4 linked regions of the Homo sapiens genome follow. The protein of the gene in region 2 purifies or fractionates together with the protein of the main gene of each other region. This does not show direct contact. Each region holds a gene or a part of one and is shown on either strand. Other genes may lie near its edges.

Region 1 (3,500 bases), on a different chromosome or scaffold from region 2:
TCGAACTCCTGACCTTGTGATCCGCCCGCCTTGGCCTCCCAAAGTGCTGAGATTACAGGAGTGAGCCACCGTGCCTGGCCCCGGGGTACCAGGTTTTAATAATATACTGCTCCTTTTATACTTGCAATTATTGCGTCAGTAGGTCATCCAGTTTGGGCATTTTTCATTAACAGGAATGACCTTGCATGGGCTCTTTCAAGCTCTCCCCAACAGATTGCTCTTGTGCCCAAGCAGGATCATTTCCAAGAATTGCGGGGACAAAGTCGCAAATGCTTTCAACTCTCCACCACTACCTATATAACTCCTTTCTGTAAATCCTCCCTCCTAGGGTCATCTTTTTAGAGCTGTATCAATCTGGTGGGGAGAAATAAAGGGTGGAGATACACTATTAGTTTCCTTCTCGAGAGGCAGTGCAGTACTGGGAAAAGCAAGCTCTTTGAGTTCAGGAAGTAGAGCCCAACTTTTGGTCCCAGTACTCAATGGCTGTGTGATAACAAGAGACATTATATATACCTTTAGAGTCTTAATTTCACCATCTATAAAATGGGTTACTGTCCTGATTATGGGAAAAAAGCAGCCTGTAAATAATAAATGTTGATTTCCTTCTACCTTTCAACTCTCCCCCTAAGTCAATATTTAAACACCAACACCATCTCTGGCAAAACAGAGAACAGAGATCTGGGACTGCGGAGAGAAGAAAAAGAGAAAGCAGACAGACAAAGCAATTAGGATGTGGGGCTGGCATGCCTGACTCATTTAATTCCATATATTTGTTATATCAACAATCATGACTTAATGGTATGTTAGAAGCTTTGAAGTTTTGCAATATTTTTCTACTTGACAAGTAGCTGTGATTTTTACCTCACCAAATGCTCCTCTGCCTATTACTTTTAAGGACTCAAAATCTTCCAATCCAAGTCTTGTTCTCTTCAAACGAAGAAACTCTGTTTCCTTCCGAGCATGTGCTGATCTCCGGAGTCGTTTCTAATATTTAAATAAAAAAGGGAGGAGACGGGAAGGAACTGAAATTCTGAAACTCTGTAACAAGTCATGTTTGTGACTTACCCAGCTAGAAAACAGGTCCAAGTGGACTAAGGATAATCTTTTCACATATGAAATCACCCCAGAAGGATCCTTAAGAGGTCACTTCTCCCTTTCCTGGCATTTAGACACAACATCCAAGCCACACTGAACAGATGGGTGCCTCCTCTGGGAACTCTGACTAACCTACTTCAGCAATCCACTATCCTAACATTTTTGGTGAAGGGAGGGATAAATAATCAACAATATTTTCCTTTATCCTGTTTAATATAAATTAAAAATGTGTTCTTATCTTTCCCTCTGGCTTAAACACTGTATACTCTAACTTTCTGTTATTTCTACAAGTATTGGGTATTTTTCACCACCGTCCTGGGTTCTGCAAGCCAGTCCTATTTTTGAAGGCATTTCCACTACCATTTCAGTTCCTTGCACAGTCCCTTGTTAACTATATTTTCTCCTACTGTATCTGTGGGCACTGGGTGGAAGGGCTGATTTGAGATGGATATTTTGCCTTAATAAAGATTTCAGGAACATGACACACCGGGGCCTGTCGGGGCATGGGGGGAAAGGGAGGGAGAGCATTAGGACAAATACCTCATGCATGCGGAGCTTAAAACCTAGATGACAGGTTGATAGGTGCAGCAAACCACTATGGCACATATATACCTATGTAATAAACCTGCATGTTCAGCACACGTATGTATCCCAGAAAAAGTAAAATAAATAAATATTTCAAAAATTTGCCCTACTCCTACGGAGACTTTTCAGTGAATTCTATAAAAATGCTACAACTTGCTCTTTTAAAATTTAATTTGATTTCATCCCTGCTTTCTCTTGGAATTCTAAATCTAGTTTACTATAACTGCATCTAGAGAAGCCTTCCTCTCCTAGGTACTTAATAATTAATCTGTCCCTCTGAATTAACACCCAAATCCGGAAGCACACTACCCCTCAAGTTCCTCTGTTATTGAGCCAAAACCCTTCTCATGTGTACCAAGGCTAACAACTCACTGGACAAGATACAACCTGCCACGCTGGGTTTTAAGGAAAACATTGCCAATATTAATTACCTCCTCATCTTTTAGGCCTTCTTCTTCCATCACCTTTTCTAACTTCTTTTGTCTAAAACAAACAAAAACAAAAGACATGAAATCACATCTGAATGATAACTTTCTGAAAATTCTGTAACTTAATACTGTAGTAGATTTTTAAAAATGACACAAACAGGTAAATCTCAAAATGTCTCATTAAAACAAAAAAAATTAAGTTACTAAGACAAGTAAAAAGATTTCCATCCTTTGTTAGGCCTACTTTTTTTTGGCGGGGGGAGGGGGGCAGGTTGCGAGGAGAGGAGACAGAGTTTTGTTCTGTCACCCAGGCTAGAATGCAGTGGCGCAATCTCAGCTCACTGAAATCTCCACCTCACAGGCTCAAGCAATCCCACCTCAGCCTCCCAAGTAGCTAGGACTACAGGCGCGTGCCACCATACCTGGCTAATTTTTAAATTTTTTGTAGAAATGAGGTCTCATTATATTGCCCAGGCTGGTCTCAAACTCCAGCCTGACCTTCCAAAGTGTTGCGATTACAGGTGTGAGCCACCATGCCCCGCCCTTAGGTCTACATTTTTTAAAAGACTGTCTAAGATGTTAATGCAACAAAGACTCTTGTTTCAAAAAAATGTCCTCTCTTGGTTTTGGGTGTTTTTTTTTTTTTTTTTTTCCAGTTATTTCCTCCTTACCAAACCACAAAACAGCTGGTATTTGATAAACTCTTATATCATGCTGTTTCTTTCCCTCTCTCTGACTGAAGTCTACTTCCTTTATTTCTGCATCTTCCTCCTCTTCCCTGCCATGAGGAAAGGGTAACAAACAACAAAGTTAAAAGCAGAATTTGGAAATTTAAGGGGAAAAAGTGATCAAAAAGGTGACTGGCACCACTATCAAAACTCCATATATCAGGCTGGGTGTGGTAGCTCACGCCTGTGATCCCAGCACTTTGGGAGGTGAGGCAGATGGGTCACTTGAGGTCAGGAGTCCAAGACCAGCCTGGCCAACATGGTGAAACCCCATCTCTACTAAAAATATAAAAATTAGGCCAGGTGCAGTGGCTCACGCCTGTAACCCCAACACTTTGGGAGGCCGAGGCGGGTGGATCACTTGATGTCAGGAGTTCGAGACCAGACTGGCCAACATGGTGAAACCTGGTCTGTACTAAAAATGCAAAAATTAGCCAGGCATGGTGGCATACCCTGTAATCCCAGCTACTTGGGAAGCTGAGACAGGAGAATCACTTGAACCCAGGAGGTGGAGGCTGCAGTGAGCAGAGATCACACCACTCACTGCACTCCAGCCTGGGTGACAGAGTGAGACCCTGTCTCAAAAAAAACAAAAAGGCCGGGCGTGGTGGCTCACGCCTGTAATCCCAGCACTTTGGGAGGCTGAGGAGGGTGGATCATAAAT
Region 2 (3,500 bases):
GTTTGGTAATTTTTTTTTTTTTTTTTTTTTTTTTTTTTGAGATGAAGTCTTGCTCTCTTGCCCAGGCTGGAGTGTAGTGGTGTGATCTCGGCTCACTGCAACCTCTACCTCCCAGGTTCCACGGATTCTCCTGCCTCAGCCTCCCGAGTAGCTGGGATTACAGTCGAGCACCATCACACCTGGCTTATTTTTGTATTTTTAGTAGAAATGGGGTTTCGCCATGTTGGCCAGGCTTGTCTCAAACTCCTGACCTCAGGTGATCTGCCTACTTCAGCCTCCCAAAGTGCTGGGATTACAGACGTGAGCCACTGGGTAATTTTATATTTGCCTTTCTCCACACCTCTGTATTGGAAGCTTTTTTTTTTTTCTTAATGGCAATGAGTGTTTTGAAGCCACATCTACTCTGTAGTTTAACCATTCTCACTGTAGCCATTTCCACAGGACAGATAAAGCAAGATGTGTGTCTTGGCCTGTAAAGTTTCACGTGATCTGAGGGCTCCCTCAGCATGGATGCTGTTAACAAACGTGGTGCCCGCCCACCGCAACACACAGACACATAACTGTGTGGTAAGCCTTTGCAGAGGCCAGCGAATGGGCCCTGCAGCTCAGGCCCTGGTGGGCCTTGGCCTCAGCACTGGGGATGCCACTACCCCGTCAAAACCTGTAGCTGGCTCCTTCTAGAATGTGCTATCACCCTGCCCTCAGCCTCTGAGCACAGTGAGGGCTGTATGTCCCCACTGGACAGTGCAAGTGGCCTGGGGGTGTGTCAGATGGGGAGGTTAAAGTCACACAGCCCCAGACCGCAGAATCAGGACTGGAACCCAGACCTCACTGGCTCTGATTTGTGTAGAAACCCCTGGAAGCTGCCTGGAGCAGGGCAAGGAGGGTTGAGCAGCTGGTTCACTGCTGCTCCTGGCCCATGTTTTAGGTGTTGTGGGGGCATCTTACAGAGCTCTTTTGGGAATCCCCCTCTGCTCCCTGTGTCCCTGGGCCCTTGTCGGGTGACAAGCGGCGCCCAAGAACTCTCAGACCAAGGTCCTGGCCTTAAGTGACTCCAGATCTCGGGGAGACACAGCCAGACACAGCCAAGCCAGTCCTGTGAGGTCAGGCTGGGGACATCCAGAAAGGTGGCAGCCTTGGGGGCCGGGATAGTGTTGGTGCAGGCAGGGCAAGGTTGGCTAGGCAGGGGCTGCCACAGAGATGGGCACCACAGCAGTCAGAGCACAAGTGCCGGAGCAGACGGCTGAATGGCCACAATGGGCTCAGGTGAGGGTCCAGGGGCCCAGAAGAGCTTGGGATGCCCTGTCCTGAGCCTGTTAGGCTAGAGTGTCCACAAGAGCGGGACACCCCCCAGGATCACTCAAGTCTTCAAAACCAGATTCTGTGGGGTACCCCAAGCTGGCATTGGGGGAACCTACCCAGGAGCGCTGAAGGAGGACTCTCCTTCCCCAGGCTGCTTTCAGACAGAGGTCCTTGGCTTTCTACAGGGAGCCCAGCCAGGCTCACAATAAGCCAGGCCTAGCGGAAGAGAGCAGTTTTTCTTGCTCTGAGGTTTCAAAAGGGCTTGGTGAATTTTAAAAAGCTCCAAGACCCACCTGGAGCTCACTTTCAAGGTGCAGCTACAGGGCAGTGTAGAGTTGTTGGGCTTTGTGTCTCAGGAGGAGCATCTCTGCACTCTGGAGAAGTATCTGGTGGCGTCAAAGCCAGGTCTCAGGAGTTGGTTTTGGGGATGTGTCCATCTTGGCTTCCCAAGTGCTCCCTGGGCTGCCAGGAGCCATCATCTAGGGAATTTTCCAGGTCTTACCTGAACCCCACATCCAGGCTTACAGGGCTTTGAGTCCTCGGTCCAGACAGGGTCAGTCCAGCACTGCTGGTCGCCTGTGTAGCACAGGCTCCTGTCTGCCGTCTCCAGGCCCTTGCCATAGCAACAGGGATGGGCATTTATGGGCCCTGATGGCTCTTACTGAGCTCTTCCTGCCACATCCTGAGGATGCTAGGGCTGCAACTGGGGTGGCCCTGTGCAGTCACAAAGCAGGGAGTCCGGATTGGAGGATTCTTACATGCTGGTGCCCCCAGAGCCCCTGCGTGTCTGCGGGGGCCTCCCATGAGAGCCAACTCAATTGTGGAAGACAAACCGGAGGGGCTGCTGCCCTTCTCAGAACCTGAAACCTGGAACCCTATATGAATCTGCATTTCTGATCAGCCCCCATTGTGGGTCTAGGGCTAACGGCCATCAGTGCTTTTTCTCTGCTTGAACAGGTAGAAGCCCCCAAAGTTGTCCATTGGCCATGCCCCTGTGAGGGCATGAGCCAGAAGTGAGGGCAGTTTGTTTTTCAGTGATACTTCAGAGAGGGCCATTTGAGATGGGCTCTGAGGTAAGCATAGGAGTTCACCAGACGCAGAAGGAGGTCACAACCTGGGCTGGGTTCAGTAGGTGGGTTCCAGATTATCCCCACCCCAACCTGGGCTGGGTTCGGCAAGTGGGGTCCAGGCTCCTCACTCCCCCTTGCTGCTCTTGGTTGACAGGAGAGTAACAACATGGTGGTGCCTGCCATGCAGCTCGCCAGCAAGATCCCGGACATGTCGGTACAGCTGTGGTCGTCAGCACTGCTGAGAGGTGAGTGCAATGGCCACCCCTCTTCCCCAGCCCCAGCCTGGCCCTCCCCAGAGATCAAGGCTGCTGGGCATGTCCTGCTCAGCCTTAGCTCGGACTAGGCCTCCGTGGGCCGCAGCCCCAGTTCTAGCATGGGTAGGGGGTGCTCCTCAGGAGACCCTGGTTGAGGGCAGTGGGTGCATTTGTGGCATCCGCTTGACTCGGGGTCTGGTTCAGTCTCTATAGGACACAGAGGCTGCGACTTGGTATCTGGTAGACTTGGGCTGTTAGCCGTGGCGCTCTCAGCCTTGCTTCTTCCCGGAAAGGCAGACAGCAGCCATACCTATTGGGTAGGGCTGGCCAGCTAGCTCTGGGAGCAGGGCGGGCACTCAGCGGGTATCATTGCTGTTACCGCAGCTCCCCCATTTCCAGATTACGAAACTAAGGTCCGGAGACTCGCCTGGGGCCCTGGGGAGGTGACAGGAGACGGGGTGCTCCATGTGCAGTGGGCTGCCTGGGGCTGCTGCCTCAGGATGGGCATTGGGCGTCCTGCCCCAATGAGCGCCTGTTTGCCTGAGGGCTGGCCATGGGCTCCCTGGAGGGCTGGCGAGAAGCCTGGCATTGGGCTTTCACTGCCCAGCCAGCCCTGTTCTGCCCTATGAGGGCGGCTGGCGCATGGGCTTTGTGATCCCAAGACAGGGCTCAGGTCCAGTGACGTGCCAGGCACCCAGAGATCCACCAGTGCAGCTGGGACTTGACCTTAGGGCTCCATCTGCACCGAGTGGGAGGGCCTGGGCAGTGACAGGGCAAGGCGGGCCCCCATGCTCATGTCCCACTCTCAGACCTGAATAAAGCCTGTGGGAACGCCATGGATGCCCATGAAGCCGCCCAGATGCACCAGAACTTC
Region 3 (3,500 bases), on a different chromosome or scaffold from region 2:
GCTCCACAACCAGCTCACGGTGTTCTTCCCGAGATGGAGAGTTCACTCTCACCACACTGAAAAAGGAGGCCAAGTTTGAGCTGCGTGCCTTCCATGAGGACAAGAAGCCCTCCAAGCTCTTTGAGGATGACGAGCATGAGAAAGAACAATACTGCATTAGAAAAGTGAGGCCTTCAGAGGAGATGCTGGAGCTGGAAAAGGAGAGGAGAGAGCTCATCCGCAGCCAGGCCGTCAAGAAGAATCCTGGCATTGCAGCAAAATGGTGGAATCCCCCGCAGGAAAAAACCATCGAGGAGCAGCTGGACGAGGAACATCTGGAGTCGCACAAAAAGTACAAGGAGCGCAAAGAGAGAAGGGCACAGCAGGAACAGTTGCTGCTGCAGAAGCAGTTACAGCAGCAGCAGCAGCAGCCCCCATCGCAGCTCTGCACAGCCCCTGCCTCTTCTCATGAACGCGCAAGCATGATTGACAAAGCAAAGGAGGACATTGTCACAGAGCAGATAGATTTCTCTGCTGCTCGCAAACAATTTCAGCTGATGGAGAATTCCAGGCAAGCGGTGGCCAAGGGCCAGAGTACACCCAGGCTGTTCTCCATCAAGCCTTTCTACAGGCCTCTGGGGTCAGTCAACTCAGACAAGCCACTGACTAATCCGAGACCACCTTCTGTCGGGGGACCTCCAGAAGACAGTGGTGCCTCAGCCGCCAAGGGACAGAAATCCCCCGGTGCCCTGGAGACCCCATCGGCAGCAGGAAGCCAGGGCAACACAGCCTCTCAGGGGAAGGAAGGGCCCTACAGCGAGCCTTCTAAACGTGGGCCCTTATCTAAACTGTGGGCTGAGGATGGAGAATTTACGAGCGCCCGGGCTGTCCTCACTGTGGTCAAGGATGATGACCATGGGATTTTGGATCAGTTCTCAAGATCTGTCAATGTCTCCTTGACCCAAGAGGAGCTTGACTCTGGTCTGGACGAATTGTCGGTGAGGTCTCAGGATACCACAGTCCTGGAGACCCTATCCAATGATTTCAGCATGGACAACATCAGTGACAGCGGGGCATCCAATGAGACAACCAATGCCCTCCAGGAAAATTCACTGGCTGATTTTTCTCTGCCCCAGACACCACAAACTGACAACCCCTCAGAGGGCCGAGGAGAAGGCGTCTCCAAGTCATTTAGTGATCATGGTTTCTATTCCCCTTCCTCCACGCTGGGGGACTCTCCGTTGGTTGATGACCCCTTGGAGTATCAGGCTGGCCTCCTGGTGCAGAATGCCATTCAACAAGCCATAGCCGAGCAGGTGGATAAAGCTGTGTCCAAAACCAGCAGGGATGGAGCAGAGCAACAGGGACCTGAAGCGACTGTAGAGGAAGCTGAAGCTGCGGCTTTCGGCTCAGAAAAGCCTCAGAGCATGTTTGAGCCACCTCAGGTGTCTTCTCCTGTTCAAGAGAAAAGGGATGTATTACCAAAGATTCTGCCTGCTGAAGACAGGGCGCTCAGGGAAAGGGGGCCCCCCCAGCCACTGCCAGCTGTGCAGCCCAGTGGCCCGATTAACATGGAGGAGACCAGGCCCGAAGGAAGCTATTTCAGCAAGTACTCGGAGGCAGCTGAGCTGAGAAGCACAGCCTCCCTCCTGGCCACTCAAGAATCTGACGTGATGGTTGGGCCTTTCAAGCTGAGGTCCAGGAAACAGCGGACTTTGTCCATGATTGAGGAAGAGATCCGAGCAGCTCAGGAAAGGGAAGAGGAGCTGAAGAGGCAGAGACAAGTCTTGCAGAGTACGCAGAGCCCCAGGACAAAGAATGCCCCATCACTGCCCTCCAGAACATGCTACAAAACTGCTCCAGGTAAGTGAGGTGCCTCACATGAGAGACAGATGCCACAGCAGTCTGTTGTTGTTGATTCCAGCTCATGGGTTTCTATGTGGAGCCTCCTCTGTGTGTGTCTGGAATAAGTGTTGGGGGGACACTGGCATGAGAATTCCAGCATACAGGGACATGCAACAAAAGTGTCAAGAGTGTCCTCTAGAAGAACCCTGAGCTTGCATGGAGTTTGCCACTTTCCAGAGGATGCAATAGCTCCTTCTTTGTTGTTCTGCTTTGGCCTTGGTTTATTATAAAGAATTGTTCTCTTTTACTTGAAAGCCTGCCTCTTGTCTGAAGGAGAGGCTGTTTGTGGCATAGAACCAGAGTGGACCCATGTGTGGACTATGTTGGAATCAGTAGCTTGACCCTCAGTATCTAGTTAAACCCATCTGATTTGGGAGTTGTCCTCTACTAACTAACCCCTTCTGAATGCTGGTTTCCTTCCCAGCAATGATAGTCATGGCATGGCATTGCAGACTGGTCCATGCAAAATGCTTTTGTTCATCTTCCGTGTAACTGGGTTTTTCTTCTTAAGTCACCACAAAGCAACTACTTTGGAATCAGGAGTGGACGCATCTGTTCTTGTCATGTGACCCATTTGGAAAAGTTGAATTACTCTTCACAAAGGCAGGTCTTTAATCCCTTCATATTGCCTGGGTGGTCCCTTTTTTGAATACTTTGTATAGATGGTTGATGTTAATTAGAGTGCTAATTATTATTGCTACCATATGGATAACAGTGTGACCAGTTGTTTTTATTTTCCATGTGAATGTGATAGCAATCAGGGATCCACAGATCTTCAGCTATGGAAAACGCTGCTCAAAGCGTGGTCCAAGCTAGTCCAGGAATCATTTGCTACTGGTTCATTCTAAGTTCAGACATCGAGAGTAAGCATTTGAAAACTCCTATTGCAATGTGATATTGTCCTGAAATCCAAGCGTGGGATTTTTGTATTTTACAAAACTATTGCTTCATAATGGACTGGTGGGGAAAAACTGATGCTTCACCAGAGAAAATTTAAGAATCGTTACCCTAAAGGATAATTGTTGACACTTATCTTGGTCCATCCATATCTTAATCTTATCTTGACACTTGGCTTCCATCAAACCTACAATGACTCAAGGTCACTCTTCTCATTAACTTTTTAAAATTGGAAAGAATCTCCAACCTAAAGAAAAGTTCCCAAGTACAGTACAAATGTCTTTCTGTTTTGAATCATTTGAGAGTAAATTGCCAACATGATGCCCCATCACCCCCAATTTTGTAGACTGCTCCCTAATGTGGGTCTCTGATGTTTTCATATGATGATTTTCAGGTTGTGCATCTTTGGTAGGAATACCACCAAATTGATGCTGTGTTCTCACTGTATCCAAACAGGTAGCACGTGGTATTAGTTTGTCCCATTATGGTGACAGGTGTCAACTCTGATCACTTAATATTGATTATGATCACTCCATTGAGGGAGTGTCTGCCAGCCTTCTGCACAGTAGTTACTTTTTTCTTTTGTAATTAATATACATTTTGTAGGGCAATACTGTGGTATTCTGCAATTTTCACCCCATTTCTTATCAAACTTCATTTATTTATGTCGGTATGATCTCATGGATTCCTGTGATATTCAATGGATTCCTGTGATATTC
Region 4 (3,500 bases), on a different chromosome or scaffold from region 2:
TACTTTCACAATCAGAAAGTCTTCGTCTATTTTTTTGTGATTTGGGTCTGATCTGCCTTTGCATCTGAAGTTCTTGACTAGTCAGAAGTTTCTTATTATTTCTGACAGACAGGTTCTGAGGAGAAATTAATTTAGTCTTTTTTCGGGTATCAACTACTCCAACAGTTTTGCCATGATCACGTAATTGAGCTACATAATCCAAAGACCGCTGGGACAACTCATATGCCTTACGAGGACCCTTTTTCAGGCCAAGTTTCTCAGCTGTTGAAGTTGGCTCAGGACACTGACGAAATTTCTTTGGCGGCACTATAGCAGGAGTTGTTCTACAACTTAGGTAATTTGAACTTCTATTCTGTCCTTTTTTGGCATCTGAATGAGTTTTCTTAGGGGTCTTAGAAACTGGAACTTTCCTGATGGGTTCTGTACAAGTACAAAGCTTTGAAGACTTCTTTTGTGAAACCGTAGTGGCTCTCTGAATACGTGAATTGGGAGTTGAAGTCCTTCTATCAATACTTTTAAAATCATTTCCCACAAGATCTCTCTTATTAGTATCAGACTGGCCCTCATTTCTGACAGAAGATGAAGGCCTCACAGGATCTTCAGCCATTGGTTTTTCAGATCGTTTTCTCTTAGGCTTTTTTACTTCAATTTCACAAAATTCTTCAACAGAAATACTCCGTGGTCTTGTGTGTTCTTCAATGCCCTCTGCTCCTTTTTTAACAACTTCAGATACATAATCTGTACAACCCTGACCATTTGTAGTATTGGCTATAGGAGCCAAACATTTTTTCTCACCATCTTGAACTGAATTATTATCGTCTGGATGATCTTGCCAAACTGAAAACACTTCAGATGAACTTTCAAACTCAAAACACTGAGAATCAGATTCCTCAAACTGAAAAAGAGTCTCTGTCTTTTCTTCCTTTACTGGATTCTTTTCCTCCTTACTATTAACTGTTGAAACGTGCTGCTCTGGATGTTCCCTCTCAAGGCATATTTTGTCCTGTTTAGTGAGTTTCTCAAGACTCAGGATTCTTTCATCATCATCATCATCAGAATCTGAAATAATAATAACCTGTCCACGGGAGGTATCTCCAACATTATTTTGGTTAGCTGTGAAACATCTTTTATCTTCTTTTACTTTCCTTTGCAGCTGCGATGAGTTCTGAGGTGAATCGGATGGGAACGTAATAACACTGGCTTGAGCTAGTAAAGATAATTTGTGAAGGTCTCTGTCTATCTGAGAATCCGTTAAGGTGTCAGATTTAGGACTGATGTCAGGGGCCTGTTCTCTTGTCAAGTTAGAATAAATCACACTGGTACTATTACTCATCTCCTCATCTCTTGATTCAGGTACAGTCATAAGATCTTTAAAGGGAGATGATTTCTTCTCTGAAGCATTGGTCATTTCTGTAAAAGGGATCAATTCTTTACCATCAACATGAAATTCCTGTATTTTACAATTGTTTTCATGGAAAGAGAAAATAACTAATTCTTCATTCTTTAATTGTTTCTCTTTTGGCAATACATTGTTTTGAGATTTTTGTTCTCCATTCTTATCATCCAGAACACCACTAGGGTCTAAAGAAAGATTGTGTATGAAACCATCTCCTTTCTGAACTCCTGTATCTTTCCTTGAATAGAAACTCTCAATGTTAGATACAGTCAAATTTTCATCTAAATTGATAGTATTATCGACCAAAGTACTCTTCCTGTGTTGCTTCTTTATTACATGTGATAACTTTGCACAGATTTCATCTTTCTGTACCTTAGTTTTTCGTTTTGAGGTTTTAGCAAGAGCATCATCCTTTAAAGAGAAATCTTCATTCGATGTGGACACTTTTTCCAAAGCATCAGTGCTAGAATCAGTCAACAAACGTGTTGATACTATTATTCCTCTGTCACATCCCCTTTCTGGACCATTTCTTGAAGTACAGTCCTTTGGTGTATATGAAGAGATCTCTTTTACAGACTTCTGCTTCCTTGTACTTATTTTAATTTGATCTTCAGCTCTTTCAGTAAAAATGTTTTTACTACTCTGCTTTAAGCATGACCCAGCTAAGAGATGGTCCTCTAGTTTCACATCCTTTATATAATTTTGCTCATTATTGTCACCTTCTATAGTGTTATCTGCTTTGATCAATACACTGTCTTGCACTTTCATTGGTTCTTTAGAAAATGTTGGGCTGGAAGCTTCCAAACAATGCATATCTTTTCTAGACGTCTTCCCCATTTGTTCACTTTCTTCTTTATTATAAGATGCAGGAGAGATTTTACATGCAGAAGTCAGATCCACAAAAGTGTTACATGGAGGTGCTTTGAATTTTATGTTTCTAATAATTTGCTTTAAGCAACTTTGTAGCTCATGGGTTTCCTGACTAGTCAACTGCCAACCTAGAGATAAATTTCCTCTAAGGAATAAGTTGAGCTTATCCCAGAATCGCTTGCAAAGAGACTGCTGCCCAAGCTGATAACCTTCTTTAAGGAGACTTCTAATCAGCTGCACATAAGCAAGTTGTACAGAGTTAGATGGCATGGAATGCAATGACAGTGAAGATATCATTGCTGTTCCTTTGGAGCAATTTCCAGATGATTTCTCAGAACTCCGTGTAAACGCAGTGGTAGGAAGCTTGGCACATTTGACGACGGCTTCCACCCATTGCTGGGAACTTACCCACAGCAAATGCAAACATTTTTTATTTCTATGCAGTTCAATCACTGATACCAAAATTAGAAGAAAAAATTCAGTGACTTTGTCACACACAGCATCTGTTTGGTTGAGGACTTCTTTGACTTCAGAGTACAGATGATTAACAACCTGTGCTATGTAAGCCACACCCAAATCCTTAAGATCCATGAGGGACTGGACAAAAGGGATGAACCATAGAAATGTGCTGTTATGAACACGCATGTCTTGACCAATATCTGACTGAAGTACACTGGCTAATGTTTCCATTTCTTCATACATGTTAGGACAATAATCTGGGCAAATGGCTGTTCTCCATCCAGAATCCTAAAATGAAAGAAATGCTGATGTTCAGATAAATAAGCACCACTTATGACAGGTTCAACACCCAAGTCGTTAAGAAAAATACGTTTCTCAACTCTCTTATTTTGGTTTACCACATCATTATTATGCTATACAATGGTATAATTGTGGCATATAATTATATCACAATCGTAATACACCTAACTCCCAAGAAAGTGAAAATATAAATTGAATTTTGAGTTTTCATAAAAAGACAAATTGGTAACACCTTTATGTACTCTCACCTTCTGTCCACTAGCTAGTTTTGATTTCTAGTCATGCCATGTATGTCCCCATAAACTTTCCATCTTCCCTAAATGTACTTATAAGTTAATTTTCCAAAGTATGCATACTGTAGTTAGAGTCCATCTTCCCCAACACACAATACATCTGCTGTTCAATGAGAAGGGCTTTTACATAGCAGTAGATTGAGAACAGCTACATATCACAAAATCTGCAACTCAACAAATTA

Evidence for each region. Proteins that work in one complex are often made in the same cells at the same time.
Region 1: the proteins of MAU2 (region 2) and STK38 purify together in Homo sapiens (affinity purification with mass spectrometry, with the first as the bait; one large-scale study listed by BioGRID). This does not show direct contact.
Region 3: the proteins of MAU2 (region 2) and PALM2AKAP2 purify together in Homo sapiens (affinity purification with mass spectrometry, with the first as the bait; one large-scale study listed by BioGRID). This does not show direct contact.
Region 4: the proteins of MAU2 (region 2) and SETX purify together in Homo sapiens (affinity purification with mass spectrometry, with the first as the bait; one large-scale study listed by BioGRID). This does not show direct contact.

The regions. Positions count from the first base shown.
Region 1 is NC_000006.12:36,523,480-36,526,979, forward strand, and holds part of STK38 (serine/threonine-protein kinase 38), read right to left. Parts: intron 2,164-3,500; coding exon 2,112-2,163; intron 985-2,111; coding exon 862-984; intron 1-861. UniProt on the Homo sapiens protein: Serine/threonine-protein kinase that acts as a negative regulator of MAP3K1/2 signaling. Converts MAP3K2 from its phosphorylated form to its non-phosphorylated form and inhibits autophosphorylation of MAP3K2.
Region 2 is NC_000019.10:19,351,829-19,355,328, forward strand, and holds part of MAU2 (MAU2 chromatid cohesion factor homolog), read left to right. Parts: intron 1-2,526; coding exon 2,527-2,617; intron 2,618-3,435; coding exon 3,436-3,500. UniProt on the Homo sapiens protein: Plays an important role in the loading of the cohesin complex on to DNA. Forms a heterodimeric complex (also known as cohesin loading complex) with NIPBL/SCC2 which mediates the loading of the cohesin complex onto chromatin.
Region 3 is NC_000009.12:110,136,698-110,140,197, forward strand, and holds part of PALM2AKAP2 (PALM2-AKAP2 protein isoform 3 (PALM2-AKAP2)), read left to right. Parts: coding exon 1-1,842; intron 1,843-3,500. UniProt on the Homo sapiens protein: Binds to regulatory subunit (RII) of protein kinase A. May be involved in establishing polarity in signaling systems or in integrating PKA-RII isoforms with downstream effectors to capture, amplify and focus diffuse, trans-cellular signals carried by cAMP.
Region 4 is NC_000009.12:132,327,487-132,330,986, forward strand, and holds part of SETX (probable helicase senataxin), read right to left. Parts: intron 3,014-3,500; coding exon 1-3,013. UniProt on the Homo sapiens protein: Probable RNA/DNA helicase involved in diverse aspects of RNA metabolism and genomic integrity.